4 linked regions of the Homo sapiens genome follow. The protein of the gene in region 1 purifies or fractionates together with the protein of each later gene. This does not show direct contact. Each region holds a gene or a part of one and is shown in the gene's direction. Other genes may lie near its edges. The genes, in order: TCF7, MAN2B2, RBFOX3 and DCAF4.

Region 1 (7,825 bases):
TCAGGGATTTGAGGAGGAAGGGTCACTTAGCTAAGGAAGACCTGAAGGATGACCAGGAATTGAAGCAGGCAAAGTGGTGCAAAACAATCCAGTGTTAACAGTGGCTGCAATGGCCCCAGGACAGATATCAGCCCTATACCGTCAAAGAAACAGAAGCAGGCTGGAGGGGCCCAGGGGCCTGCTAAGCTGGGTCCCAGGAGAAGGATACCATTTCCATCCCTCAAGCACCCATACAAGTTTATAGAGGGAAACCGCACAAGCTGCCCTCTGGTGGCAGATGCTTGAAATTCCAGCAGAGGCCCATCTGTCTCACAGGATGGGTCAAGGCCTGCCTAGCAAGGTAGGGAAGTCTTTCCTCGTGTCTGGCCAGCAGCCAGACTGCTAACAGCTATCTCTCCCAACCACAGGCCCAGCCCTCCTCTCTACCCCCTGTCCCCTTCCTGCGGATATAGACAGCACTTCCCTGCCCCCACTGCAGCCCCTGGCGCCCCCTACCCCAGGTGAGTCCCCTACACTGCAGCTAGGCTCCTGCTTCCTGTTGCCCAGGCTTCAGAGCCCACACAAGGCCATGCCCAGGCCAGTGCTTGCCCTGTGTTAGTCGTTTGTCCATCTGTCCGTCTGTCATTTTGCAGCCCCCTGCTGTCCTGTGCCTGAGAATGAAGCTAGTGCAAGTGCCAAGAGGCCTCAGCCTGGGCCACACCGTGCAGCAGAGCACCACAGAGGCCAGGACAGTACAGGCATATGTGGCTCAGCCCGTGTGCAGATGTGTGTGCACTCACCTCTGTTCTTCATCCCTACTTAGAAGGACTCTCCTGGGCATCCCCTGAGCTTTGCCCAAGCTGAGACAGCACCTTTTACCTAAGTCCCCAACCTCTGACCCTTAGGGGCTGCTGGCTCAGGGATAATACCTGTGCAAGCAGTAAGGGGCAGAATGGTCTCCACAGAATAGCAAGAAAGTGAAGTGGGAGGTGTGTGTACATGGATCCCTTCACTTAGGTCACTCCTTCAGTGACAGACTCAGTGCAAATATGCAATGGCAGGGGATTCCACAGACATTTGCTGCCCACTGGAGCTCACAGCCCAGTATAGCAAGTGTAGACATGGCACCGGCAGCTTAATGGGCCAGCTGAGTGATGGGGAAGCCCCAAGGAGACCTCACCAGGCCTGATGGGTCAGGGAGAGCTTCGCGGAAAGAGTAATAGATCTTTTGCGAGAAGAAAACAAGGGAACAGCCATAACTGGGGCTGCCGGGGAACGGAGAGGGACAGGAAGCAGAGGAGAAGAGAAGGGGCTAGCAACAGCAGCAGGATGCTCATGCAGGGCTGTGCAGGCCCTTGGGAGCAGCCTGGGTTCTATTCTTTGGACGCTGGGGGAATTTCAGCCGAAGCAGGCCAGGAACATTCAGGTGTCTCTAATGGTTACTCTGGCTATTGTGTGGAGAGAGGCCTGGAAGGGTCAAGCAGGAGAGGGATGAGGCCTCACAGGGCAGCCACAGGCTCCTGAGGCTGGGTTGGTAGGGGAAGGACGTGAGAAGGGGACAGATTCAAAAGCTACTTGGGACCTATGTAGTAACCATCTGAATGGCAATCTATGTAGATTTTTGCAGTGTGTCTGTGTAGTGTGCTGGGAGCAGGTATTTGTATTTATCTCTGTGTACTTATGTCTAGGCCAGTAGGATAGAGTATCTATCTGTTCACCTGTGTCCTCAAGTTATGTATTATGCAGGGGCCTCTGTGTGTGTCCAAAGGTCTGGCCCATAATTCTTGGCTCAGTGTTAACTTTCTTCCTGCCTCCAGGTTCACCCACCCATCCTTGATGCTAGGTTCTGGTGTACCTGGTCACCCAGCAGCCATCCCCCACCCGGCCATTGTGCCCCCCTCAGGGAAGCAGGAGCTGCAGCCCTTCGACCGCAACCTGTGAGTGAAAAGACAATGATGGCAGGGGGTGTGTCAGTCAGGATACACATGCCTCCCCACCAGGCCTGAGGACTGCCACGAGGTCCCTGCCTAAGCTGTTTCGTGCCTCTGGCTATGTTTTTGATCCTCAGAAGTAGGAGGGGGTGGGTGGGATGGGGAACAAGGATTTTTCTGAGCCAACAGAGGAGGGGCTCAGAAGTCCTTAACACATGCTTTTCCCACTTGTCTGTAGTGTTCCTATAAGGAACAGTTACTTAGCTGTCTGCTCACCCATTTGGGGGCAGCTAGGAAAGATTCCACTTAGAAAACTCTGGTATCATACACTTAGGCACACTCTAGGCCCACGCTAGAGGAGGAGGCTGCAATTAGGTGGGCACTCGGGGGGCTCCTGAACAATCTGGATTTGTGCCCCTCAGGAAGACACAAGCAGAGTCCAAGGCAGAGAAGGAGGCCAAGAAGCCAACCATCAAGAAGCCCCTCAATGCCTTCATGCTGTACATGAAGGAGATGAGAGCCAAGGTCATTGCAGAGTGCACACTTAAGGAGAGCGCTGCCATCAACCAGATCCTGGGCCGCAGGGTGAGACCATGGGCAGGTGGGCTGGCAGGGATGCTCCCCGACCATCTTCAGCCTGGTGCAGCCTGCTGACTCCCTGATGCACCCCACCTGCCCCTCTTCCCTGTTGCAGTGGCACGCGCTGTCGCGAGAAGAGCAGGCCAAGTACTATGAGCTGGCCCGCAAGGAGAGGCAGCTGCACATGCAGCTATACCCAGGCTGGTCAGCGCGGGACAACTACGTGAGTGCCTAGTGACACACAGCAGGGGTGGGCAGGGGACCCTTTGAGATACCATGCCCCAGGCCACAATCTCAGTAAGGAACGCAGAACTACTGTCCTGAAGGCACCGATGAGGAAGGGCACGGAGGGTCCAAGGCCTCCCATGGCTGCCTCAGAAGAGGACAAGCCCACATCCTATTCTCCACTCCAGAATATGCTCACACATGAGCTGTTACCCAACATTTGATTGGGCCACATGGGCAGAAGGGGAGAAAGGGGTCTGGAAGTCACCTCCTTCCATTCAAACTGGAGACCAGATTGGGGTGAGGGAAGAGCTTCTAAATGCACTCCATAGCAGCCTAGCAAGACCAGCAATCAAGAAACACCAGCACCCCAAGGTAGGAGGGGCCTGTACGCCCAGAATCCCAGGGTTACCCAAGCTAGGCAGCAGGCTGTGGGTATCCCAATGTCTGCCTCCCAGATCTGAGCATCCCTCCTTTTGTTCCCTGCAGGGGAAGAAGAAGAGGCGGTCGAGGGAAAAGCACCAAGAATCCACCACAGGTGAGACCTTCTCTCAGCAGCAGTGGAGGCTCCTCTCCATGTCCCCATTTCAAGAGCAGCCCTCCTCTGACCCAAAGGGAGGAACGCGGTACCCAGCTAGGAGCCTTCAGGGCCTGGGGCCTATGAAAACAAGGCCTGCATCTCACAAGTCAAATTCCCATGCAAGAAACAGCTATATTATACTAAGTCCCAGGGAAACCCAGCAGAACTGGCTTCTGCTGGGTAGAATTGGAGTAGATGGTGCGTTCCTCTGCCTTGCACCCACTACCTTTGCTAGCTCCACTCACCAGAGAAACCAGCAAAGAACTGACTGTATGGTTTGATGCTTAGCCCAAACAATGTCCTGGCTAGTTCTGCTGAGACTGGGAGAGGCTGAGCTAGGCCCCATGACTAGGCCCAGTAGACACACAGCCTACTGGCTGGAGCCTGGCAATTTATCACCCCCACTTCAACATTTTTCATGGCAGTGCAAAGTGCTCTATGTAGAGAAGCCCACACCCTGCTGCAGGCCTCCTTCCTAAGGGTGAATTCCTGCCTCTCTGGTAACTGAGACTCCACATCCCTGACCACCTCAGCCGTGCTGTCCCCACACAGGGAAGCTGGAGGCTAGGACTGGGACAGAGCAGGGCAGAGTTCCTAGCCCTTTTTCCAAGGCAAAGAATAGGCCCTTCCTTCCATCTGCAAGTGTGTAGAACAGCATAAGGTATAGCCTTCAGCCTTATCCCTTGAAGGAATGTAGGTCAAGAATGAAGAAAAACTGGATAAAATGGGTAGGGAGTTGGGGAGGAGGTGGGTGGCCCTAGGGCATAAAAGGCTGGATCTCCATGGTCTTCCTTGGGCCCCTCTGCAGCCTCCATGCTGCAAGGGCCCCACAAGCCACAGAGATGAGCCAGATTGACAGGACTCCCTCCCTCCCATTCTTCCCACTGCCTCTACTGCGTACCTGGGTGCCCACCTTTCCTGATATCTTGGCTCTGGGCTCTTGGGCTCCCACTGGGGCTGGCTGTGCCATGGAGAGGCCCACTCTGCCTATGGGGGCTGTAGGGTGTCTATAACTGGCTAACACTGATGTTACCTCTTCTTTCTGGGCCCTGCTCTGCCCCGCTGCCTGCTCGCCCTCTGCCCTGCTCTACCCCTCTGGCATGGCTGTGAGCAGACCCTGGCTCGCCTAAGAAATGCCGTGCTCGCTTTGGCCTCAACCAGCAGACGGATTGGTGTGGTCCGTGCAGGTGGGTTTGTCCCCACCATCGTTCTCCCTTTGCTTTAAGCTGCTTCCCTGACTCTGCACATGTTCCACTGGGCCTGCAGCCCACTCCTTTGGCCCCTCAGCCCACTAGCATACTCAGCAGATTGGGAGCCCAGGCCTCCTGAGAATAGTAGTAAATACTGAACACAGCGCGTGGAGAAGACCACTTGGGTCTAAGTGCAGGAGGATTGGAGAGAAAGACACAGAATGTTCCAGAAAGGAAGGACAGACTCAAGAAGGCAGCTCTGATGCCAGTGGGCCTAGCAGGTCCTCAGCAAACAGACAGCTCAGCCACCACTAAGGGGGCCTGGAGCCCATTCTACCAGGCCTCAAAGTCATTATGGCCCATGGGCTCCCTCACTTCCTCTTCAAGATGGGATCCCTGCCTGTACCATCCTGAGCCCTTAATCTGAAAAAGCAAGGTGACAACAACACAGAACCATCTGGTTGCCAGGTAGCCTTATGACTTGCTATCTTGTACCTACTGATACCAAAGGGCTGGAGAGGCTGGGGGAGAGGACCCAGGGGGTACCCTGGGCTGTCTGAGGGAAAGGGCTCATGTGTTTCACCATACAACAGAGAAATACTTGTGGGTGTGACAAGGTTTACCCAACAAGTGGTTAAAGTTTCCTCAGTCAGTTTCAGGCCAGGCCTGGCAGGGCTAAGATAGAGGGTACTCCAGGCAGTAAGGCCACTGGCTCTAAGGAACACTTGTCCAGCCTCTCAGTGTACCCACCACACTCCCTGTCCAAGGGCAAGGAGGAGTTTGGGGTGTGTCTGTGTATCCACATACATATGCACGGTGGGAAACAACCCTGTCTTCAGGGGAAGTTCTATTCCATTCATTCCATCAGAGACAAACTGGCCCAGAGAACTCAAGGATGGTAATGGACAAGAGTCACTGTCCATGTCTTCTTCCTCTAGCCCAGCTTGAGGACTGGGATGGCTGGGCAAGGAAGCCATAGGCATTGCGGCCCCTTGCCTTGGTGCAGATGTGAGTCCCACAAACACATCTGGAGAAGCTCAAAGGCCGGGACTGGGAGATGACTCCCTTGGAAGACAGGAGAGATGACTCCCTTGGAAGACAGATGACAGCCCATAGGCCTAGTGACAAAAGGCCCCTTTGCCACCTTGTGGCTGTTCTGGGAACTGCACCTGTCCTAGGTCTGGGCCAGACCAAGCAGAATGGCAGTCTGAGGACACTGACTTACCACCCAAGTCCCAGGAAGAGAGGACAAGGAATCAGCCAGGCCTGTGCAAAGGCAGCATTTTTTGGTTGTGGTGTATGACTATGAATTCACCCTCTGTTTACAGATAACTCTCTTCACTATTCCTAGGAGGAAAAAGAAATGCATTCGGTACTTACCCGGAGAAGGCCGCTGCCCCAGCCCCGTTCCTTCCGATGACAGTGCTCTAGGCTGCCCCGGGTCCCCAGCTCCCCAGGACTCACCCTCATACCATCTGCTGCCCCGCTTCCCCACAGAACTGCTTACTAGCCCTGCGGAGCCGGCACCTACATCCCCAGGTCTCTCCACTGCTCTCAGCCTCCCAACCCCAGGGCCCCCACAGGCCCCCCGCAGCACCCTGCAGAGCACACAGGTACAGCAACAGGAATCTCAGAGACAGGTGGCCTAGCAGGCACAGGACACCTGGCCGCCTCCAGGAGCCTACCCCCTGAAAGTGACAGAGACCCAGATCTCATGGAAACTGGCCAGGGGTCCTGTTAACGTCATCTCAGGGTCCAGACCCTGAAGATTTCAGAGGCTGCAGGACTTCTGCCTGAACCTGGGGTCATCGATTCAAACTGCTCCAAGTGGTGGGAATCAGATCTGTCTTGATGTGTCATCTAATTAAGGGAATCCCTTGTACCTATGGCTGCCTGCATCTATTCTTTGTACCATCTGTCTTGCCAGCCAGAAGCCTCTGCCTCCCTAGCTTTTCTGCTATAGGTCAGAGATGGGCTGAACTGAGCCTAGCTACCTTCTCTACCCATCTCCCCCATCCCCCACTGCCACACCCTCCCCATTCAGACACTTCATGGACCAAGAATGAGCTGGTTTGTCAAACAACATGTGAGCATGGTCACAAGCACAAAGCTCAAGATGACAGCTCTTCTAAGGAAATGGAGAAGCTCTGTTTATAAAAACAAAAACAAAACCAGCTGCTACTCATAAGTTGGACCAGAGGAAGCCCCTTACTATGATCTCAGGAGCTTGCAAGAAGCAGGAAGGGGAATGGAATAGGTTAAGTTTAGGCCTATCAACCTAAGCAACAGAAATAATCTGACACTACCTTATCAGGCAAATTGGGGAGGGGAGGGTGTATCTAGCTCTAGTTCAAATTATTTGGAAGTGTTCCCTGAGAAACCCACCAGCCTAAGAAGCTCTGGCCCCAGGCTTGTCACTAGCAGCTGCAGTCAACAGTTCAAAGAAGTCATGGCCCAAATCCAGTGTGCACCCCTCCCCATTCACAGAGCCTTTTTCACAATTCCATTTCCAGTTCATCTATGGCAGTCCAGCCAGCTCCTGGGCAGCTTGAGAGGGCAAACCCAAAACCTCATGACAGCCAGAGCCTGTCTTTCAGCATTCAGTCCGCCTGGCCGGCTCCAGTTTCCCCATGGGGCTGCGGGACAGAGGACCATTACAACTAGATCAAGGAGCCCAGAAAACCTCCAGTAGTGGACAACAGGTTTTCACCATAGCCTACGTTAACCCATTTTTGAGCCAAGCTTCAACCCTCAGCCTTGAAAAACAAGTCTTTAATTTAATTTTTGTTTTTTGCCTAAATCCAAAGAAAAAGGGCTGCCGGGCCAGGCGCGGTGGCTCACGCCTGTAATCCCAGCACTTTGGCAGGCCGAGGCAGGTGGATCACCTGACGTCAGTAGTTTGAGACCAGCCTGGCCAACATGGTGAAACCCTGTATCTACTAAAAATACAAAAATTAGCCGGACGTGGTGGTGCGCGCATGTAATCCCAGCTACTCGGGAGGCTGAGGCGGAAGAATCACTTGAACCCGGGAGGCGGAGGTTCCAGTGAGCCGAGATGGCGCTATTGCACTCCAGTCTGGGTAACAGGGAGACTGCATCTCAAAAAAAAAAAAAAAAAAAAAAAAGGGCTGTCCATGTATTCACACACCCCTCAAAAAAAGCCTTTAGTTCCTACTTTAGCCACTGGTTTCTCAGAATCCAAAGATCACATATTCTAGTGTAACACTGCAAGAAGTCTTGAGAAAAAGATTATTGTAGTGTTCAAAATATTTTTGTATTGTTAATGCATCATCATAGAAAAACTTTTAAACATGAGAATAAAGATACTTTTTACTGGGTTT
Region 2 (5,226 bases), on another chromosome or scaffold:
TTGCATTTCCCTGCTAACTAATGGTGTTGAGCATCTCTTCATGTACTTACTGGTCACTAGCATATCTTCTGTGGTGAGATGTGTCTTTAGATCCTTTACCTATTTTTAAATTGGCTTGTCTTTTATTATTGAGTTGTAAGAGTTCTTTATATATTCTAGCTACAAGTCCCTTGTCAGATTTATGATTTGCAAATCCCTCCTCCCATTCCATGGCTTGTCTTTTTACTCTTTTGATGGCCCCTGGGGGAGCTTTTTAAAAGGATCGTGCGGGGAAGGGGTCCAGGGCCAGAGGCCTCAATTCTTTTCTTTCTCCTCCTCCACCAGCACTCAGTAGAACCCTCCACAGCCTGCCTCCCTTTCCTTCCCCACCCTCACCACAATCCCACAGAGAAGTGGGTGCAGAGGCCATCCACCTCATTGTCCGCCCACAGCCAGGCCAGACTCAGATACAAATACATCACTTGTGCACTTGGTTAGGCCAAATATTGCATTTTACAATTAAAATACTTGACCCCCTCCTGCTCTTCTCCCATCCTCTGTCCTAACACAAACATCCTAATAGAAGGGAGGGAGCACAGAATTTAAAGTCGGGGCTGAATTTGAGTTCTGGCTTGCACACTTCCTAGATGTGTGATCTTGGGTACATGATGTCACAACTTCCAGCCTCGGATGCCTCGGGAGTGGGATGGGTTAACAGTCCCTGCCTTTGGGGGTTGGGAGAATTTAACCAGGTGAAGTCAGTGAAGGCTCTGGCCCATGACATGGGGTCTGTACACATGGGTGTCCTGCTGGACAGCTCAGAGTCAGCATGACAAAAGCCCGTTCCTGCACTGGTTTCGCTTGCAGACCACAGCCTGGGTGAGCCAGTTCCATCTCTTGGGGGTGCCCTCTGCTGACGGCTCACGGTTCCTGTCTGCAGGCTCTGTCCGTCTCCTCGTTTGTGACCCATTCTGGGACAGCATGGAGTCTAAGGCCACACTGGCTGTGGGTGGGGTCTCAGGGCTTCTAGATGAGCTGAGTCACATGGCCTCGTGAGTGCTACGCAGGCCACTCAGATGGCATCTGGAGAGAGAGGCTTGCCAGCCGGTGTCTGTAAGACCTTGTGCAGGATGAGAATGACATCTTCTCTCTCCTGCCTCTGCAGACAGAGTAACCGAACGGTGCGCGTGACCCAGGAATTCCTGGAGTACCACGTCAACGGGGATGTGAAACAGGGCCCCATTTCCGATAACTACCTGTTCACACCGGGCAAGGCCGCGGTGCCTGCGTGGGAAGCTGTGGAAATGGAGATTGTGGCGGGACAGCTTGTGACTGAGATCCGGCAGTACTTCTACAGGTGCTTCCCCTGGGGTGACCCCCACAGCCCGGCACACAGTCAGCGCACGCGTGCAGGCAGCTCAGTGAATGAGGGTCTGTCTTTGCTCTGAACCCCAGCTTCCGGGCCGTGGTTGACACGTGGTCTGATGAAGAAATGAATTGCTCTGGTGTCTGCATGCTGGCTGCGTTTGCGTGTGCTGTGTCACGTTGGTTGGGAGCTAAGTTCAGAGCTGGGAGAGAGACCCACAGACCCTGGGGCCCACAGAGCACCTGTTCTTCCATGATCAGAGCAGACGTAAGGCAGGCCCGGCATGGCAGCCCTGCGGTGTCGGGGAACCAGGCTGCTCCCAGCCGCTCGGGGTCCTGGGTGGTGCTATTGTCCACATGGCCCAAGAAGGCTCCCTGCCTTTCGGCGTACCCTGCCCTGCCCACCCTGCCCACATGAAGGAAGGGAAGCAAAAAGGAAGCATCTAGAAGGTTCCTGGAGCTTCACTTACTGATGCTCCCTTCTCCTCCAGGAACATGACAGCACAGAATTACACGTATGCAATCCGCTCCCGGCTCACCCATGTGCCGCAGGGCCATGACGGGGAGCTGCTCTGCCACCGGATAGAGCAGGAGTACCAAGCCGGCCCCCTGGAGCTGAACCGTGAGGCTGTCCTGAGGACCAGCACCAACCTAAACAGCCAGCAGGTCATCTACTCAGACAACAACGGCTACCAGATGCAGCGGAGGCCCTACGTTTCCTATGTGAACAACAGCATCGCCCGGGTATGTCCTGCAATGCCCACAAGGCACGCTCCCAATGGCGCCTTTCCTGGACCCATTAAGCATCAAATTGCAGCAGTAGAGGCCAGTAGAGGCCTCCAGTGAGAATGTTTTTTTCCTTTTTTTTAAGATGGAGTCTCACTCTGTCACCCAGGCTGGGGCGCAATGGAGCGATCTTGGCTCACTGCAACCTCTGCCTCCCAGGTTCAAGCGATTCTCCTGCCTCAGCCTCCCGAGTAGCTGGGATTACAGCCGCCTGCCACCATGCCCAGCTAATTTTTATATTTTTAGTAGAGATGGGGTTTCACAATGATGGCCAGGCTGGTCTTGAACGCCTGACCTCAGATGATCCACCCGCCTCAGCCTCCCAAAGTGCTGGGATTACAGGTGTGAGCCACCGCGCCCGGCCTCCAGAGAGAATTCTTTTAAAGCCTGTGTATCTGCCCGTTCAGGGCTTGAGCGTGCAGGCTGTGAGTCAGACTGGTGTCTGAATTCTGGTGCTACCACAGACAAGAATAGTATGTGCCTTGGCTTGTGCCTCGGTTTCCTCTCCTGTAAAATGGCTCCTTCATCAAAGGGTCATTCTGAGGATCCATGAGATGATGCGTGGCCAGGGCTTGGCCAGGGCCTGCACCCATGTCAGCTGAGCTGTATGCTAGGAAGCCACAGAGCTGGTGTCTGAACCCCAGTCTGTTGGTCTCCAAAGTCAGGGTCCCAGCCCCATGCTGCTGCTGTGCCTATGGGGAGCACCAGCTGGGGTGGCCAGAGGGTGATGCCTGACCTACCTTGCCCTTTGCCCCAATCGCCCACCTGGCGATGTTTCTGTCTGCAGAATTACTACCCCATGGTTCAGTCGGCCTTCATGGAGGATGGCAAAAGCAGGCTTGTGTTGCTGTCGGAGCGGGCACATGGCATCTCCAGCCAAGGGAATGGGCAGGTGGAGGTAGGAGGCACGGTCTGTCCTACAGCAGCCCCTCGCGGCCCCCTACAGGCATGCCCAGGTGCAAGCCGGGCCTCTCGGACAATGCCTTCCCGCAGGTCATGCTCCACCGGCGGCTGTGGAACAACTTCGACTGGGACCTGGGCTACAACCTCACGCTGAACGACACCTCAGTCGTCCACCCAGTGCTCTGGCTTCTGCTGGGATCCTGGTCCCTCACCACTGCCCTGCGCCAGAGGAGCGCACTGGCGCTGCAGCACAGGCCCGTGGTGCTGTTCGGAGACCTCGCTGGTAAAGGGGCACCCTTTCAGAGTAACATCATCACTGCCTCAGCACCAGCCAGGCCAGGGCGGGCCTTGGGAGGGGCCTGTGCCCTCATGACTCTGGGCAGCTTTTGGGCAGGAAGCGACCTCAGGGACCTCTAGCCCAAGCCCCTCATTTAACAGATGGGCAAACTGAGGGCAAACAGTGGCTCACTTAAGGTCATACAACTAGGAGGTACAGAGCTGGGACTCACCCATTTCACCATATGCCTCTTCCCTGTATCTTCTCCATTTTCTTCTCTGATGTATCTTTTCCTTTCTTAATATGACATTATGTCACCATGTCACTTTAGGTCTGGAGGCTTAGCATTTAAAAGACTGGTTTGTTAGCTGGGCATGGTGGCGCATGCCTGTAATCCTGTAATGCCAGCTACACGGGAGACTGAGGCAGGAGAATCGCTTGAACCCGGGAGGCAGAGGTTGCAGGGAGCTGAGATTGCACCGTTGCACCCCAGCCTGGGTGGCAAAGCGAGACTCTGTCTCAAAAGTAAAAATAAAAGACAAGTTGGGTCTGAATCTAGGTGTGCTGTCACCAGGTGGGGGTCTTTCTAATCTATAGTCTAACCTAAAGGACTTATTCTGTACCTCCACTGAGCTTCTGTAGATCAGATCAACAACCATGTAGTTCTGTGTCTCTATAAAGTAGCAGAACATGAGAAACATTAAACAATGATTACATTTAAAGATGGTCTTTTGGAGCTGCAAGACCTAGATACAATTTGCTGCCATTCTCACTAATCCTTAAACTCTTTTCTTTTTCTACTCACCTATGGAGGTTTTGATTAGCATGTGCTTTTAAGGTTCTCCCTGCTTTGGTTTTAGAGCCAGAACCCAGGGCAGTAGCCAGCAGGCAGGCTGTCACTCACCCATGCAACAAGCATATACTGAGCACTTGCAGTGTGCCTGTGCCATACACTGGAGATGCAGAAGAGCAGCCCGGACCCAGGAGAGTTTTCCTGGGCTGTTGGACAGGGGAGGCATGCTCGTATAGAGCCAGGATTCAGGGTGGAGAAGGAGCCATGCCATAGAGGGCCTGGTGTTTCGTGGGTGTAGAGGAGTGTGAGACCACAGCTGGGAGGAGGTCAGGGATCAGGTCCAGGGGGTGTCAATTAAGGTTCTTTGGAAGTAACAGAGCCTGAAGGGGCAGCTATTTGGGCAGAGCCTGGAGAAGCTCATGGAATCTAAGGAGGAGCTGGATACAAGGTCCAGACAGGCATGGGGCAGGGCAGCTCTAGGCATATCAGGAGCAGAGGCTCACAGCCATGTCTCCCAGGACGGCCATTGAGCCACCTCTGGTTCCCTTGCTTCAGATTCCCAGAAGAGGAAATCTGATTGGCCTAGCAGGGTCAGGTTCTGCTCCCAGACCAGTCAGTGGTTCCTTCTGTGTAGCTGGGGCTTTTCCTGCAAAGGGAGATGAGGCCATGTCTGAGAAAGCCCCATGGCTGTTGTCAGCTCCATCCCACCTGGCCTCACTCTGGTCTCTGTTGGTTGCAAGTAACGGAAACCCAACTTGAACTAGCTGAGCCCCCAGGGAGAGTGTATGGTGAGGCCCACATAACCAAGGGAAGGGCAGGGTGTAATTGGGCCTCAGGGCCTGGAGCCCTCGTGAGGCTGTCCTTGTTCGTCTCTCACCTGCACTTCTCTCTGTCTGCAGACTTTCCTTCACCTCCCACCTGGGATGTGACTCTGAACAGCTCTGGGGCTGCTCTCAAAGAGCAGCTCTGTCTTCCCCACTCAAAAGGACCTAAGACTTGGACTTTCCAGTTCCAAGTGCAAAAGTCCTAGGGAAAGATTCTGATTGGTCCTACTGGGGTCAGGTGGCCCATGCCTGGACCAATCAGCATGGCCTGGGGTATTGTAAGAAGATGGTAGCTCCAG
Region 3 (7,825 bases), on another chromosome or scaffold:
TAGGGTCGGGACAGGGGAGCAGGTCTGAGTGTGGCCCTTGAGCCAGTGAGCCCCTGACTTCAGTCACTTCCTGCTTACCCCATGGGGAGGCTGTGGAAACCCCAGGTGGAGACCGCATCTCTGATTCCCAGTCCCCCCACCGCCCCCCGCAAGCCCCGTGCCCACAGTGGCTGTCTGTCTTGGAGGCAGACGCTTGAGTGCTTCCTCCTGGAGCAACCTAGCCTAGTGCCTTTCCCCTCAGACATCTGGCCTGTTGGTAGCTGAGCTCCACCACTCTGGTCTGGGGACCGCTTGTACCCCCTCCCTCCTGGCAGCCCCGGCTCCATCTCCCTGAAGTGTGGTGTACAGGGTGCCGTGGCCCAGCTCTGCTCTCTAAGGAGCTGAGAGTTCCCTGCACAGACAAACTGCTGAAGGGAAAGTCGTGAGGGACACAAGTGTCACATTCTTGGGGGCAGTGTTCCTGGTCCCTCCTCGTTGACCCTCTCTCTTCTCTTGAAACCCTCCCCAGTATTTACCACATTCTTTTTGGGGTGGAAGTTTGTTTTCCCTGCAGACGAGCTCCATGAGGACACCATCCCCCTCCACGTAGCACTGAGTGGAACACACCCCCTCCCCCCACCCCGTCAGGGTCAGCACACTGTGGGCATATTGAGAGGGTTGCCTGTTGTGTTCCAGAAGCTTCCTTCTTAACAAGAAGGAGGGGTAGGCCTTGCAGGCCTTGCAGGAGGGGAGGGTGCCTTGCAGATGGGACCTCGGTACAGGGTGCCCATGTAGTGTCTGGGAGGAGGTGGGAGGCCGTTGCTGCCCCTCACCTGCCCCCCTCCCCCACCCTCCTCCCACTCCCCCTCCCACGCTCTTCCCTAGTTACGGCAGAGTCTACGCAGCTGCCGACCCGTACCATCACACCATCGGGCCCGCGGCGACCTACAGCATTGGAACCATGGTAAGGAGCCCAGGCCCGCCCAGCCCTGGGTGCCAGTCCTAACAGCTGGGCATGGGTGGTGAGGCCCTTGGGGGAGAGGCCGAGCCCTCTGACCAATGCCTTGGTCCCGGAGACTTTGGAAGGACCACGGCCTGGATGTGAGTTAGGGTGAGGGGAGGGCTGGCCCCTCACGCCCTCTCAGTTGCGGGGAAGCAGGTTGAATGGCTGGTCAGCCCACCGTACCATCTGGTCCTCTGGAAAGCACCCCAATGTGCCTGATCCGTTTCCCTGAGCTCCCTCACTATAATAAAGTCCCGTTGAGGCCCCTCCATTCCCATTTCCACCAGGAAAACCTCAGAAACCAAACCAGGGCCGCCTCTCCTTCCCAGCAGAGGCTCCCAAGGCCCCGGGGCTGTTTCTGCCCACACCGCATACCCACGGCCCACCCGCACTGCTGCAGCCCCCTCGCATCGCATCCGAGAGGGGAGTGTGGGTTACCGGTTGCTTCTCACCAGGCTCTAGCTCCTGGCTTCCTGGGGGCTCCTGGCGTCCTGGGGAAACAGTGCCTGCTCTGCCCCAGCCTCCTCCCTCAGGCTGTGGGGTGGAAGGGGCGGGGCGGGGAGGTGCGCGGCGTGGCGTGTCTCTGTGTGTGTGTGTGTGTGTGTGTGTGTGTGTGTGTGGCCAGCTGTTGACACGTGCAGCCCAGCTCACTCTGCACCCAGAGCTGCTTCCAGCAGACACCTGCCTCCTGTACCCACTGGCCCCAGCCCCGGGGTGTGAACACGGGTTTTAGCTAGCTTGGCATCCAGCATCAAAGATGAAAACATCTTGGGAGAGTGAGGAGGGAGGAGGTTCAGAGGCAATATGGATTTTTCCCATCTTTCTTGGTTTTGATGACTCCCTCCAATTTTTTTTTTTTTTTTCAATTTTTAACGAGCCTCAGACACCCCCAGCAGCCTGTGGTGGCTGTGGGCAGCCACAGGCGCGGGTCTGGTGCGGCCCCACCCGGATGGAGGTGTGATACCCTGGCTCTTGGGCCCTCCGTGCAGCTGCAAGCTAAAAGCTTTCATTAACGCACGGAGGGTTCCCTCTTGTGTTTTCACTTTGTATTTTTAAGATTTTCTATTTTTCCCCAATTTTTCTTCTCTTGCACTTGCTGTGTTGTTCTTTTCTGGGAAAACTGGGTGGTGGGAGGGTGGGAGGCCCCTTCAGAGCCTTCCCTGACTGGAGGCAGCCCAGGACATGGGAGAGCTGGAGCATCCAGGACCCGCTCTCCCCAGTAGGACAGGGCTGGGCCTCAGGTGGGCCCAGGAGGACCCAGAGACCCCCCCAGAGAGCAAGGCTCTGAACACTATGCCCAGCAGGCTTGCCTCTCCCAGCGTAGCTGGCTTCAGTGGCCCCAGGCTCTTGAGCCAAGGCCCAGGAACCCGCCAGGAGGTCCCTCAGTGCTCTGAAGATGCCCCGTGCCACCCTGCTGGGGTGCGAGGAGGTGGGGCTCAAGCTGGGACCCCCCCTCTGCATAAGGACAGTGAGAGGCCAGGCCTGAGCCCAGAGAAGTGACCCAGACATAACTCAAGCTGTGACCTAGAAGCACTGTTGGCCATGACCCCAGAGCACCCCACACTGGCCCAAGACCACTATGTCAGAGGCAGGTCCTACTCTTCCTGTTGCCATGACAACCCAACTCCTTTCTCCCCAAGGAATATAGGGGGAAAGAAATCGAGACTTGGCTATTTCTCTTTTTGTTTTTCCTTTTTTTTTTTCTTTTTGCTTTTTCCCCTCTTCCAAAAGACGGTACTGATTGGCTGTTTTTCATCTTTGATGTTGCAGGCTAGCCTCTGCCGAGGAGGGTACAGCCGCTTCACCCCCTACTAGCAAGAGACCCAGCCCCTAACAGCATTCACACTGACTGCCTATTACACACCAAACCCAACAGCCCAAAACCAGGCACAGCCACCAGAAGACAGTGCACCCCTCCCGGTCAGCGACACGCACGGCTGGCCCCCTGCAACTCTAAAATCTATAGATTATTTCTCTCCAGCCAGTTGGTCTCCCCACCCCACCTGTGCTGGTGTGTGTGTCTTTGACCCTGGTTTTTCCTGTATGTCTGCAACCGTGATTTCCTATTTTGACTTTGTTGATGTTGTACTACCCAAGCCATTGCAGGTACGGTGTGCACACCGTGGGGTCCAGGCTGGGCCAGGAGACCAGGCAGCCCCCAACCTGGGAGTAGCGGTAGCGCCCTATGAGGGCAAGAGCCACATTTCCTGGCCTCCCAGGCTGCACAGAACAACAGAAACGCCTGGCAGGGCCTCCCCCAAAGCCACCCGACCAGCCCCGTGCCATGGCCCTAGTGTCCAGCACCCTGACGCAGGGAGGGAGGGGCTCCAGGCACCCAGTGTGGGTCTCCCCGGCCTGAGGGTGCTCCCGCAGGCCTTCACCCAGCCAACCACAGGAGTAGCCACTGCCCCTCCTCGCCCCATTCAGCTGAAACTAATATTTTTCATTAAATTTTATTGACGATATTTCTTGCCGACGTAGTCACAAGCGTGTCGCGTGGTGTGCAAACTGCTGTGGTCACGCCAGTCTCTGCGACTCCTTAGCACTGCTGCAGCAGAAAGTGGAAATGTGGAAAGGCACGTCCTGGTCGCTCCTCAGGGAGCCCCTTAGCACCGCAGGGCCAAGGCCAGGCCAGCCTTGCAAGGGGGTTGTCCTGGAGGCACAGCCTACTTTCCCTGTCCCCAAGCTTCGAAATGTCTTTATTGGGGTATATTCCGGAAGGAGGGGTCCTCAGCAGGCAGGAGAGCTGATGAGGGGCAGAATGCACCCTTGCTCAGGCCCTCCCCTGAGCGCAGGCCGGTCAGCCCCAGGTCAGTCCCCTCCCTGCATTAGGGAGACTGCAGGCAGGGCCCTGTGGCCTGCGGGCCACTCCTTCCTCAGCCCTGGGACTGGCCAGCCCGGTGCATGGCGCTTCTGGGGAGACACTGGCTGGGACCTCACTTGAGCACAGCCGTGGGCAGCTTGCTGGCCTGCCTAGGAAAAGCCAGCCAAGACAGGCACAGTCCTTTCCTGGCACTGGCCTGGGGCACACAGATCTGTACCTCCATGACAGGGAAAAGTAGCCTCAGGTTCTGAGTGTGCCACGGCTGGGCTCCTGGGGCTGGAAGGCCAGCTGGAGGGTGTGGGTTCCCCACCAGTGAGGGCTGAAGTCCTGCCGCCCACCAGGCCCTTGCCGTGGGGGGCCCGGCTCCCCCACCTCCCGTGGCCAGACCATCACCCTCTGCCATCTCATCCAGGCCGCCTCGAAGCCTGTGCTGGCCCAGCCTCTCCACTCACCCTGCCCTGCTCAGCTCTGTCTCCTCCTCAGGGCCCCAGGTGTCTCCTCCCATCCTGGGCTGCCTGGGCCCCATCCTGGGATCCACCCACACTCAGCCCTGGAAGATGAGGGTCCTGGAAACCTGGGGGGCAGGTGTGGCGGCGCCAGGACTTTAGGCCAGGGGCCCCGTGCCACGTGGTCCTGTCGCCTTCACACCTGCTGTGCCTCCCCCGAGAAGCTGCAAGTCCTGCCTTTCTGTTTCTGTTGTAGTGAAACCTTCCACCGTTTCCTTCTCGGACCATGAAGGGCAAAAACAAAAAAACAAAAAAAATCACAAAACAAAAAAAACAAAAAAAGATGTTAAGATCCAAGCAACAAAAAAAAAACCAACCAAACCAAGAGGCATCCAACCAAGTCCAAGTCCCGCGTCCTGGCCACACGCCCGCACCGAGGGAGCACGCCGGCAGGGGCGCCGAGGAGCGGCCCCAGGACAGGACGGCCCCACCGCGTCCTGGCTGGCAGCACAGTGGGAACACGCCCCTCCGTCTCAGGCAGTGGGGGAGTTGGAGGGGAAGGGGCCTCCCTTGTGGGACCCGTGGGGGGCTCTGTTTTCCATCCAGTCTTCCTTTCCCAGCCCCCAACTCCCAAGACAGACAGTGTGGAGCCCAGCGGCGGCGGAGCAGGCCCGGGCCTGAGCAGGCAGGCGCTGCTAGCAAGACTTGATCTTTGTGGCCAGCTGTGCCAGGGGGCCGGCGGGGCTGAGGGGTGCGGGCAGCTTTCATCCCAGGGGCTCCACTGGGCCCCGTCACCCTCCTGTCGCGTCCCCTGCGTCCCACCTCCCTCCTGCCCGGCAGTCCCGCCCGTGCCCCCAGCCTGGCGAGGAAGCCGTCCAACAGTAGCCCCGGGGCCAGCTCCCAACAGAAAGGGCTGACGTGGCTCCAGGACTCAGGGGCGCTCCATGGGAGGACGAAGGAAGCCCAGCCAGCCAGGAGCCACTCCTCACACCTCCAAGTGTGGCCAAGTGGGCCCTGAGGCCAAGGACTTACTTGCTCTTCCTGGCCATCTCTCCCTTTCTGGAGGAGGCCCGGGGCCTGTGTACACCAAGGCTGACCTCGTGCTGCCTGCTGGGACCCAGCCCTCCCTGCCGCTCCCCTGTGAGCCCAGTCCACCGTGGGCGCCCAGGGCCAGGGACGGGCCAGCGCCCGGCTGCATCGCGAGGTTGGGAGTCACAGTGGCTGTGGGCCTGGACGGGCACAGCCAGAGCAGGGGCCCATGGGAAGGGCAAGGGATGGGGAAGCCTGGGCCGGCCCCTTCCCTGCTCCCAAGGCAGGTGTCCAGGTGGCGGGAGCAGCACCAAGGACAGCCAGGCTTACCCGGTGGGAGGAGCAGGAGCAGAGCAGGTGGCAGGGAGGAACCCCTGGCGAGGCAGGGAGCACTGAAGTAGGGAAGCAGCAAAAAATACAGGCTCCCAACGTGGCTCCACTGTCTCATGAAGTGTCAAAAATTTAAAAATACACCTCACTTTCTATTCAGCATCAGCTATTGAAATGGAATTCTCCTTTTCTATTCCCGTTGTACATAGCCCCACGCCCTGCCTCCGGCTTTGTCCTCTGTACAGAGCCCCCTGTCCCCTCTGCTGTTCCGGACCCTTTTCTTGCAGCAGCTCAACCCCCCGACTCACTCAGATCCCCAGGACTGCAGCCGAGCCCCGGGCTTCCTTTCTTACCATTCTGTATGCTTCCAAGGTGTGACCATTCAAACTAACAGTATTATTAAGATTATTAATAAAGATTTCTTTCTTCAAACCAGGACAACTCTGTATGCTCTGGCAGCTCCCGGGCATGGTGGGTGGAGGGCATAGCGGCCCAGGGTGCAGGACGGGGGCCAGGACGGGATGCAGCCCTGCCTTGGCCTACAGCCAGGTGGCAATGGTGTCAGAAGGCCCTAGACTTTCCAGTCCCAATCCTCAAGTCCAGGCTGGTCGTCTGCATCCCACCCCAGGATAGGCTGGGTGGGTGGCAGCTCATGGCATATCTGTGCTGCCTGGCCTGCCTCTCGGACTCAGGTCGAGGCCAGCCCTGGTCCCTTCTTTCCTGGTTACAGCATGTGCTGGACACAGCGTGACCTCAGAGCAGAATGCACCCCAGGAAGCAGAAAGGTTAGAACTGGTGACCACACAGCTGTGCTTGGTCGACCCAGTGCAACAAAGAGCACGGAGCTGGGAGGGTGGGGGGACATGGCACAGAGGCATAGATGGCTGGTGCTCCAGCCAGTTCTGCACGCCTGGTGTAGCCTGAGTTGTTGGGGCCCACAAGGAGCCATGTTGCTTCAAGGTAAACCCACTTCGCCAGCCCCAGTCACCCCTCCTGGAAGGTGGGTAGGAGCTAGAGCACAGCTGCAAAGGCTCAGCTGAGCGGGGAGATGGGAAGACGAGTGGCAGAACCTGAACCCAGAGCTCAGAAGCCTGGGGCTGGGGCCAGGGCTGGACAGGGAGCCAGCATCCAGGGCCGGGCTGGTGCTGCCCGCGCCCCATCACACCAGGACTCGACTGCACGCTTCACATTGTCAGATCATTTATTTCAGCGCAGTTACACCCAGCAGAGGGGCACAGGCTTAAACGCCGGCATATTAGTTTTCCCGCACGCGAGCCCTGCATGGCGGTGGGCTGGGGAGCCGGGGCGGTGCGATTCTGCCACACGCCACGCTCTACTAGGCCCCCTTACTCCTAATTAATTGCCTGCTCACCAGACTGTGAGAAAATAATTGCCACTATAAATTTTCCCTCCTCTGCATAAAATATTCGGGGGAACCAGCACTTAAAAAACAGACTTCATGAAAGAAGGGCAGCAAGGCGTGGATGCTGCGCCCCCCACAACCCCCACTGCAGAGGACACAGAGAGGCCAGGAGCCCCTTCCTGGTTCCCCCTGGTTCCAAATGAGACAGAAAGGCTCAAAGAGCTCCCGGGAATGGTCACAGCTGAAAAAAAGTCGAGTGAGTGGCTACATGCGGCAGCCGCTTGTGTTCACCTGCCGTCCACCCAGGACAGTCCCCGGCAGCAGCTTGTGTTCACCTGCCCTCCACCCAGGACAGTCCCCGGGCTGGCTCCAGGCTGCAGGGGGTCAGCAGAGGGAGCCTCCTGCCCCATATCCTTGGCAAACTCACTTCTCCTTCTGGGACCACACAAGAGACATGGGAGAATGTTCCTAATTAGGCAAGAGCACAGAACCCCTAATCCCAGTCTCTGCTTGGCATGAGTACCCAGGCAGGCAAGGAAGATGGAGACAGGTGGATTTCAGCTCCTGGAAGGAGCCCCGGCTCAGAGTGGCTGCTGAGTACCCAGCCTTGCCCTCCTCTGACGTGGGAACGGGTGTGGCTGTGCTGCCACCTGGTGGCCTCTTCCCTCACTGCAGGGTGAAATGATGTGGATGCCAGCCCTTAGGTGTGGGCTCCAGCTGGGGTCACAGAGCATCCCAGCCCTCAGCACTGCCCGACATAGAGGGAACCCCTACCACTGGCCCTATGTGGCCTGGGGGTGAGAGACCCCCCCCCCAAAAGCGAGGGACTTCAGGCCACTGACACCGTGGAA
Region 4 (7,825 bases), on another chromosome or scaffold:
ATCTGATTTGTTTTTCCCTTTAAAAAACATCTGAAGCTGGCCAGTCACGATGGCTCACCCCTATAATCCCAGCACTTTGGGAGGCCGAGGCGGGCGGATCACGTGAGGTCGGGTGTTCGAGACGAGTCTGACCAACTTGGAGAAACCCCGTCTCTACTAAAAATACAAAATTACCCGGGCGTGGTGGCACATGCCTGTAATCCCAGCTACTCAGGAAGCCGAGGCAGGAGAATCGCTTGAACCTGGGAGGCAGAGGTTGCGGTAAGCCGAGATCGCGCCATTGCACCCCAGCCTGGGCAACAAGAGCGAAACTCCGTCTCAAAAACAAACAAACAAAAAAAAAACATCTGAAGGTAAATGTGGGCAGTGTAAACGCATGTTGAATCTGGACGGTGGGGGTTACTCTGGCCTAGGTTGTGTGCCGTATGACTTTCTGAAGGGTAAATGTCCATGCCTCCTCCCAGAGGGGAGCCTTGTGCCTAACTGTCCTTAACAGCTTTTTCCAGGCTATGCCTCATGGGACTCGCAGAGACTCCAGGCTGTGCCACCCTGCTCCCAGCATCACTGTTCGTCAATAGTCACCCAGGTACAGGGTTCTCCTCCTTTAAAGAAATCTGTCCTCTGTCTCCCGAGAGCTGTGTGGGGGTGGCTTAGAGAGAAGTATGGGGCCGCTGCAGAGGCACTGTGGGAGGATTCCCTAAGCCTGTCCCAGGGTTAGTACCAGAAGCATGTGTTTTTTTTACAGCATCTGCCCCTTTTTACCCATCTTGGGCCATTTCAGTCATTTCAGCAGCCAGAGCAGACTTAACACGCATGTAAACCAGCGTGAGCTCAGAACAGATTCGGACGCCCGTGCACATCATTCAGAAAACACCTCTGAAGGTCCAAAGCACCTCAGGTGCTATCAGGGATACTTAACAGTCTGCCTACGTTAAGGCAATTTGACTCCTCCTTCCTGACAGCATTCTGGATATTACATTTCAGTCTATCAGAAAATTAGGATCAATAAGACCAGGGTGAGAGGCCTCTTAAGAGTGTGGGCTTCAGGCAGACCTGGCACGAATCCCAGCTCTGCCCCTTGCCAACTTGAATGGAATGTTGAACCTCTCTAAAGTGGACAGGGCCTTCTCAGTCCACATCCGTGGAGAATTAGGTGAGATCATGCACATTTAGCCCAGTGCCTGGTATTTCATTGCACAGCAAGCTTATGAGGCAGGAGTGTGTCTTACCACCATTTTACAGATAAGGAAACTGAGGCAGACAGTTTCAGAATTTGTCTTACAAAAGTAATTTTTAGTGTTGGAGGTCAGGCTCACAGTACCCTTTGGGGAGGTAGTAATTGGGAAAGGGATGTGAGGGAGGCCTCTGGGGTACTGGATTGTTTTATGTCTTGTCTTGTCTTTTTTTTTTTTTTTTTTTTGAGACGGAGTTTTGCTCTTATTGCCCAGGCTGGAGTGCAATGGCACGATCTCAGCTCACCACAACCTCCGCCTCCCAGGTTCAAGCAATGCTCCTGCCTCAGCCTCCCAAGTAGCTGAGATCACAGGCGCACACCACCACGCCCGGCTAATTTTTGTATTTTTAGTAGAGACGGGATTTCACCATGTTGGTTAGGCTGGTCTCGAACTCCTGACCTCGTGATCCACCTGCCTCGGCCTCCCAAAGTGCTGGGATTACAGGTGTGAGCCACAATGCCCGGCCTTTTTTTTTTTTTTTTTTTTTTTTTGAGATGGAGTTTCACTCTTGTTGCCCAGGCTGGAGTGCAATGACACGATCTCAGTTCACCGCAACCTCCGCCTCTGGGGCTCAAGCGATTCTCCTGCCTCAGCCTCCCAAGTAGCCAGGATTACAGGCATGTACCACCACACCCGGCTGATTTTTGTATTTTTAGTAGAGATGGGATTCTCCATGTTGGTCAGGCTGGTCTCGAACTCCCGACCTCAGGTGATCCACCCGCTTCGGCCTCCTAAAGTGCTGGGATTACAGGCGTGAGCCACCACGCCTGGCATGGATTGTTTTATTTCTTAACCTGGGTGGTGGGTACATGGCTATATTTAGTTTGTGATAACTCACTGAACTGTATCCTTACAATCTGTACGTTCTATCAATGCAAAAGTTTATTTTAAAAAATATTTTTTCGAAGCACAGTGGCTCATGCCTGTAATCTCAACACTTTGGGAGGCCAAGGCAGGATAATCGTTTGAGCCCAGGAGTTCAAGACCAGCCTGAGCAACATAGCAAGACTCCAATCTCTACAAAAAATAAATAATTAGCCATGTGTGGTGGCTCACACCTGTGATCCCAGCTACTTGGGAGGCTGAGATGGGAGGATTCCTTGAGCCTGGGAGGTTGAGGATGCATTGAGCCATGATCACGCCACTGCACTCCAGACTGGGCAAAAGAACAAGACCCTGTCTTAAAAAAAAAAAAAAAAAAAAAAAATATATATATATATATATATATATATATATAGTTTATTTATTTATTTATTTGTGTGTGTGTGTGTGTGTGTGTGTGTGTGTGTGTGTGTGTGTGTGTATATACACACACACTTGCCTGAGATCACATAGCTGGTAGGTGATCGAGGATCGGAGCCACCTTACCTCCAACAGTATACTACCTCCCTGATATCAGTACTATTCGTACTGTAAACACGACTACTGGGAACGTTAACAAAGATGCATTTTCGGAATAACCACTTGTGAGCCAGGCATCCCAGCTGAGTCTCTCTTGCAACCACAAAACCCAGAATGGGGCCAAAGGTATAGACCCTCTGAGCAGCTATGGGCATATTTGGATGTTTTCCGAACCCAGTGGTCCCTGGCCTGCCTAGAAGGCAGCCACACTTTACATTCTCCTATCCCCTTAGCAGGAATAGACCGGCCTGGCATGCTCTGCAGTTTCCGGATCCCTGGTGCCTGGTCCTGTGCCTGGTCCCTGAATATCCAAGCAAATAACTGCTTCAGTACAGGTGAGCCTGGCTCCCCAGGTGCCCAGAGAAGAGGCCTTAACAGGCCTTAAAACCCCATGTAGTTGTCCCTCTCCCCAGACTACATGTGACATAATCTTACCAGCCCATCTCTGTCTCCGCCAGGCTTGTCTCGGCGGGTCCTGTTGACCAACGTGGTGACGGGACACCGGCAGTCCTTTGGGACCAACAGTGATGTCTTGGCCCAGCAGTTTGCTCTCATGGTTGGTTGGATTGGGACAGGCAGAATATAAAAGTTTGCCCCATGTAGAAATTTGGCCAGATTGAAATTGGACTCCTCTGTGTGCCATCTAGTACTCTTTGACAGGGGAGAAAGAGCATCAGAAAGGATCAGTGGGTTCCTTTGTAAGGGTGTCTGAGCCGAGTGAAAGTTGGTTGATCCAGAAAGGCTGGCCTGAGTTGCTCTACACAACCTCTCATGGAAAGGTATTGTGAGCAGTTCTTGGGTACTTGGATTTACCCAGTAGGACAAACCATTTTTAAAATGTATAAGCCAAACACCAATTCTTCACAGCTCCCAGGTTATATATTTTATATGTTTAAAAAATCAGGCCAGGTACAGTGGCTAATGAATGGCTGTAATCCCAACACTTTGGGAGGCCAAGATGGGTGGATCACAAGGTCAGGAGTTCAAAACCAGCCTAGCCAAGATGGTGAAACCCCTTCTCTACTAAAAATACGAAAGTTAGCCAGGCATAGTGCTGGGCGCCTGTAATCCCAGCTGCTCGAGAGACTGAGGAGAATTGCCTGAACCCGGGAGGCGGAGGTTGCAGTGAGCCAAGATCACACCACTGCACTCCAGCCTGGGCAACAGAGCAAGACTCTGTCTCAAAAAAAAAAAAAAATTGTGGTCATTACTATATTTCACAGACTTTTCTCTAGAAAATGCCGTCTTCCCTTAAAAGTGAATGAACCCACTAACCTGCTTTTGGTGGAGATGGAATGCTATCTCTGGGACTTCAGAGAGAAAGGCCAAACGGGACAGTGCAGGGGGGTGGGGGGCAGCTCCTAGGACCTCCGTGCTACCCATGAGGAGGACACATGGGGTCTGGTTCTTCTAGCCACTAACAAGGAATCATCCTCCCTTCCAACTCCATTGAGACCCAAACCCTGACCAGCACGTGTCTAATCACACCGTCTGACCCAGAGGCTGGAAGAGGGGTTGTATCAGGAGGACCTGCCCTGCCCAGCCTCAGAGGGATGTCATGATAGCCAGGCACTGAGCAGTCCCTCTTTCCACAGGCTCCTCTGCTGTTTAATGGCTGCCGCTCTGGGGAAATCTTTGCCATTGATCTGCGTTGTGGAAATCAAGGCAAGGGATGGAAGGCCACCCGCCTGTTTCATGATTCAGCAGTGACCTCTGTGCGGATCCTCCAAGATGAGCAATACCTGATGGCTTCAGACATGGCTGGAAAGGTAGGGGATCATGGACTTTCTCAGGCCACAGGGTCTCGTGGCCCAGTGCCCTGCCAGGTGAAAGGGTTCTGCTGAAGAGGTCCTCACACCAAGACCCCAGGCAGGGGAATTTCGCTGAAGACCAAGTGATTTGTAGGCCCTGCATGGGGACTGCTTCGTTGACCATATGAGCCTAATCTGACGTAAACAAAAGTGAAAAGGATTCTCTGGTTATGTCCTTTTTTTTTTTTTTTTTTTTTTTTTTGAGATGGAGTCTTGCTCTGTCGCCCGGGCTGGAGTGCAGTGGTACTATCTTGGCTTACTGCAACCTCTGTCTCTCAGGTTCAAGCGATTCTCCTGCCTCAGCCTCCTGAGTAGCTGGGATTACAGGTACCCGCCACTGCGCCCGGCTAATTTTTGTATTTTTAGTAGAGATGGGGTTTCACCATGTTGGTCAGGCTGGTCTCGAACTCCTGACCTCATGATCTGCCCACCTTGGCCTCCCATAGTGCTGGGATTACAGGCATGAGCCACCGTGCCCGGCCTGGTTACATGCTTTTGATGAACAACAAGGCTCAAGAATTCGAGATGGAGATCTTCATGACCTGCACAGGCCACTGGAGACCACCTTGCCTTCCTGGCTTTGCACTTGGGGACCACCATGGTACCCCCTGGCCCCTCCCTGATGGCCCCTGGTGCTTTTTCCACAGATCAAGCTGTGGGACCTGAGGACCACGAAGTGCGTAAGGCAGTACGAAGGCCACGTGAATGAGTACGCCTACCTGCCCCTGCATGTGCACGAGGAAGAAGGAATCCTGGTGGCAGGTACTTGAGGAAGGAAGGGGAAGTTCCACCCCATCAAATACTGTCTCTCAGGGGCGATCCCAGCAACTTCAGCAGCAGAGGGAAAAGTTACCCCAAAACAGAACTGAATCAAGGGGAGTGTGGACAGCTGGGTGGGGAGACTAGGAGGGAAGTAGAATTAGATTATATTAGTAATCAGGAGTGTAAATAAATGTCCACCAGGTGGACAGCCTCATCCCATGTCAGTGGGCAAACGTCACTTCAGAAACAGGCAGGTGGGGAGGTCCTGGGGAGCCTGGGTTTGGAGTTTGAGTGGATTTCATCAGGCCAGCATTATTCCACCACGCAACTATCTTATCCAAAAACTTGGGCTCCCTGTTGTCTCTACTCACATTTCCACCAGAGGATGCTGAGAAAAGAAGTTATGGTCATTGTAAAGATTCTTGGCCCCGGCCCGGCGCGGTGGCTCACGCCCGTAATCCCAACACTTTGGGAGGCCAAGGAGGGTGGATCACGAGGTCAGGAGATTGAGACCATCCTGGCCAACATGGTGAAACCCCATCTCTACTAAAATACAAAAATTAACTGGGCATGGTGGCACCTGCCTGTAATCTCTCAGCTACTCGGAAGTCAGAAGCAGGAGAATTGCTTGGACCAGGAAGTCGGAGGTTGCAGTGAGCCGATATCACGCCACTGCACTCCAGCCTGGCAACAGAGCGAGACTCCGTCTCAAAATAAATAAATAAATAAAAAAGATTTGTGGCCCCTTTACTACCATCCCTGTGGCTCCATGATCTGCAGATTAGGAGCAGCTATCTGGCCACTAAGCCCCCTGGAAGGGAGTTACCAGTTGATTACAGATGATGGTGGCTATAGCGTAATCAGACAGTGTGCAGGCTCAATGCTTTCACACTGAAATAGTAGCTGCTGACACTGCAGAATGTGTTCTCAGTCTTCAAGAATTGTCACCTCTACTGGTATTCCTATAGAAAGGGCTTATACCCCATGGAACATTTTTGTGGCTAGGAAGCATTACTTTGTTAGGACATTCATAGACTTATTTACTATTCTCATCAACACCAGGACTTCGCCTCCTTTTTAAGTCGATTTTTCACCTGTTTTTATCACAGAAGAGCTCTTGTGAGCTGGATGATAGAGAGAGCTCAGCCTTGCTGAGAGGCAGATGCAGGTAGTTACCAGCTGCAGTAATAAACTGCAGCCGGGATTCAGCTTCAGCCAAGATAGCACTTCTGGTCTTAGAGCCACACAAGTGATCAGAATCACAAATGTGAAATCCATGACTGCCCAAGGCCTGTCCTCTTCTCCTGCTGAAGGTCTCCAGTAGTGTATATCATGTTTCTGGGCTGCTGTAACCCATGCTGTTGTGTGTCACAGTCCTCAGAACTGGAGCCCTGAAGACTTAAACCGGTCCTAGGAACTGAAGCATTAAACCAGAAAGAGCTGTGGGGAGAGTTGTCAACCTAGCCCATCCCCAGGATGTAATGACTTTGACAGATCTTTTACTATAACATGAAAAGATCAGGCCAGGTGTGGTAGCTATAATTCCAGCACTTAGGGAGCTTGAGGCCAGGAGTTTAAGACCAGCTGGGGCAACACAGCAAGACCCTATCTCAAAAAAAAAAAAAATTAGGCATGGCGGCACACACTTGTAGTCCCAGTTAACTCAGGAGGCTGAGGCAGAAGGATGGCTTGGGCCCAGGAGTTCAAGGCTGCAGTGAGCCCTGATCACACCACTGCACTCCAGCCCGGGCGACAGAGCAAGACCCTGTCCCTAAAAAATGGGGGAAATCAGTTGCATGTCACCTAGACCAGGTGGGCCACACTCGCACTTGAACGTTCCGTGACATCAAGAGCAGCAGAATACCCAGACATTAGCCAGGATGTCTCCGAGCCATTCATGGCATCACACAGCCAACCAGGGCATCTTGTCATTGTTCTAGCACAACAGGGCGACTTGGGTTATCCGTAGAAATACTGTCCGTTAATGAGTTTGTGTTTTGGCTCACATGAAATCACAGCCCTGAGGAATCTTGGGAAGCCATGTCCACATGTAGGTAAGTTTTCCTTTGCATTCTCTCACTAGCCTGCCATGTGTCTCTCCTCTTTCCTAGTGGGCCAGGACTGCTACACGAGAATCTGGAGCCTCCACGATGCCCGCCTACTGAGAACCATACCCTCCCCGTACCCTGCCTCCAAGGCCGACATTCCCAGTGTGGCCTTCTCGTCGCGGCTGGGGGGCTCCCGGGGCGCGCCGGGGCTGCTCATGGCTGTCGGGCAGGACCTTTACTGTTACTCCTACAGCTAATTCTGCAGGGCACAGCCCAGAGCCATGTGGATTTGACTTACGGGAGTAAAGCGTAACTTTTTACTGCATCTAATGAGGGTGTTTTAAGTGACACTCAGTGTACACAGATCCCATCCTCTGGCTGCTAGGAGAGAAGTGCTGAATGTTCCGTGTGGAGATGCTCAGGAAAGTTATTTGAGTTAAATTGCTGGCTGAGAGAGCTTGGAAGTCCTTTTCATAAAAGGTACCTCTTTCCTTTTCTTATTGAATTCTTAGAACTTAGTTAACCCTCCCTGCCTTTTCTTAACAAAAAGGACTTTTCTAAGGACTGA

The links.
Region 2: the proteins of TCF7 (region 1) and MAN2B2 purify together in Homo sapiens (affinity purification with mass spectrometry; one large-scale study listed by BioGRID and IntAct). This does not show direct contact.
Region 3: the proteins of TCF7 (region 1) and RBFOX3 purify together in Homo sapiens (affinity purification with mass spectrometry; one large-scale study listed by BioGRID and IntAct). This does not show direct contact.
Region 4: the proteins of TCF7 (region 1) and DCAF4 purify together in Homo sapiens (co-immunoprecipitation; one large-scale study listed by IntAct). This does not show direct contact.

Annotation. Positions count from the first base shown.
Region 1 is NC_000005.10:134,140,389-134,148,213, forward strand, and holds the end of TCF7 (transcription factor 7), read left to right. Parts: intron 1-407; coding exon of another isoform or gene 408-500; intron 501-1,796; coding exon 1,797-1,916; intron 1,917-2,332; coding exon 2,333-2,495; intron 2,496-2,604; coding exon 2,605-2,712; intron 2,713-3,203; coding exon 3,204-3,252; intron 3,253-4,408; coding exon of another isoform or gene 4,409-4,623; exon of another isoform or gene 4,624-5,352; coding exon of another isoform or gene 5,353-5,463; exon of another isoform or gene 5,464-5,812; coding exon of another isoform or gene 5,813-5,835; coding exon 5,836-5,915; 3' UTR 5,916-7,822; downstream 7,823-7,825. UniProt on the Homo sapiens protein: Transcriptional activator involved in T-cell lymphocyte differentiation. Necessary for the survival of CD4(+) CD8(+) immature thymocytes. Isoforms lacking the N-terminal CTNNB1 binding domain cannot fulfill this role.
Region 2 is NC_000004.12:6,607,963-6,613,188, forward strand, and holds part of MAN2B2 (epididymis-specific alpha-mannosidase isoform 1 precursor), read left to right. Parts: intron 1-1,144; coding exon 1,145-1,336; intron 1,337-1,835; coding exon 1,836-2,088; intron 2,089-2,917; coding exon 2,918-3,028; intron 3,029-3,123; coding exon 3,124-3,316; intron 3,317-5,226.
Region 3 is NC_000017.11:79,087,569-79,095,393, reverse strand, and holds the end of RBFOX3 (RNA binding protein fox-1 homolog 3), read left to right. Parts: intron 1-864; coding exon 865-943; intron 944-2,752; coding exon of another isoform or gene 2,753-2,797; exon of another isoform or gene 2,798-3,447; intron 3,448-4,508; coding exon 4,509-4,511; 3' UTR 4,512-6,049; downstream 6,050-7,825. UniProt on the Homo sapiens protein: Pre-mRNA alternative splicing regulator. Regulates alternative splicing of RBFOX2 to enhance the production of mRNA species that are targeted for nonsense-mediated decay (NMD).
Region 4 is NC_000014.9:72,951,292-72,959,116, forward strand, and holds part of DCAF4 (DDB1- and CUL4-associated factor 4), read left to right. Parts: intron 1-506; coding exon 507-586; intron 587-2,869; coding exon of another isoform or gene 2,870-2,872; coding exon 2,873-2,971; intron 2,972-3,094; coding exon 3,095-3,192; intron 3,193-4,231; coding exon 4,232-4,405; intron 4,406-5,094; coding exon 5,095-5,209; intron 5,210-7,320; coding exon 7,321-7,514; 3' UTR 7,515-7,825. UniProt on the Homo sapiens protein: May function as a substrate receptor for CUL4-DDB1 E3 ubiquitin-protein ligase complex.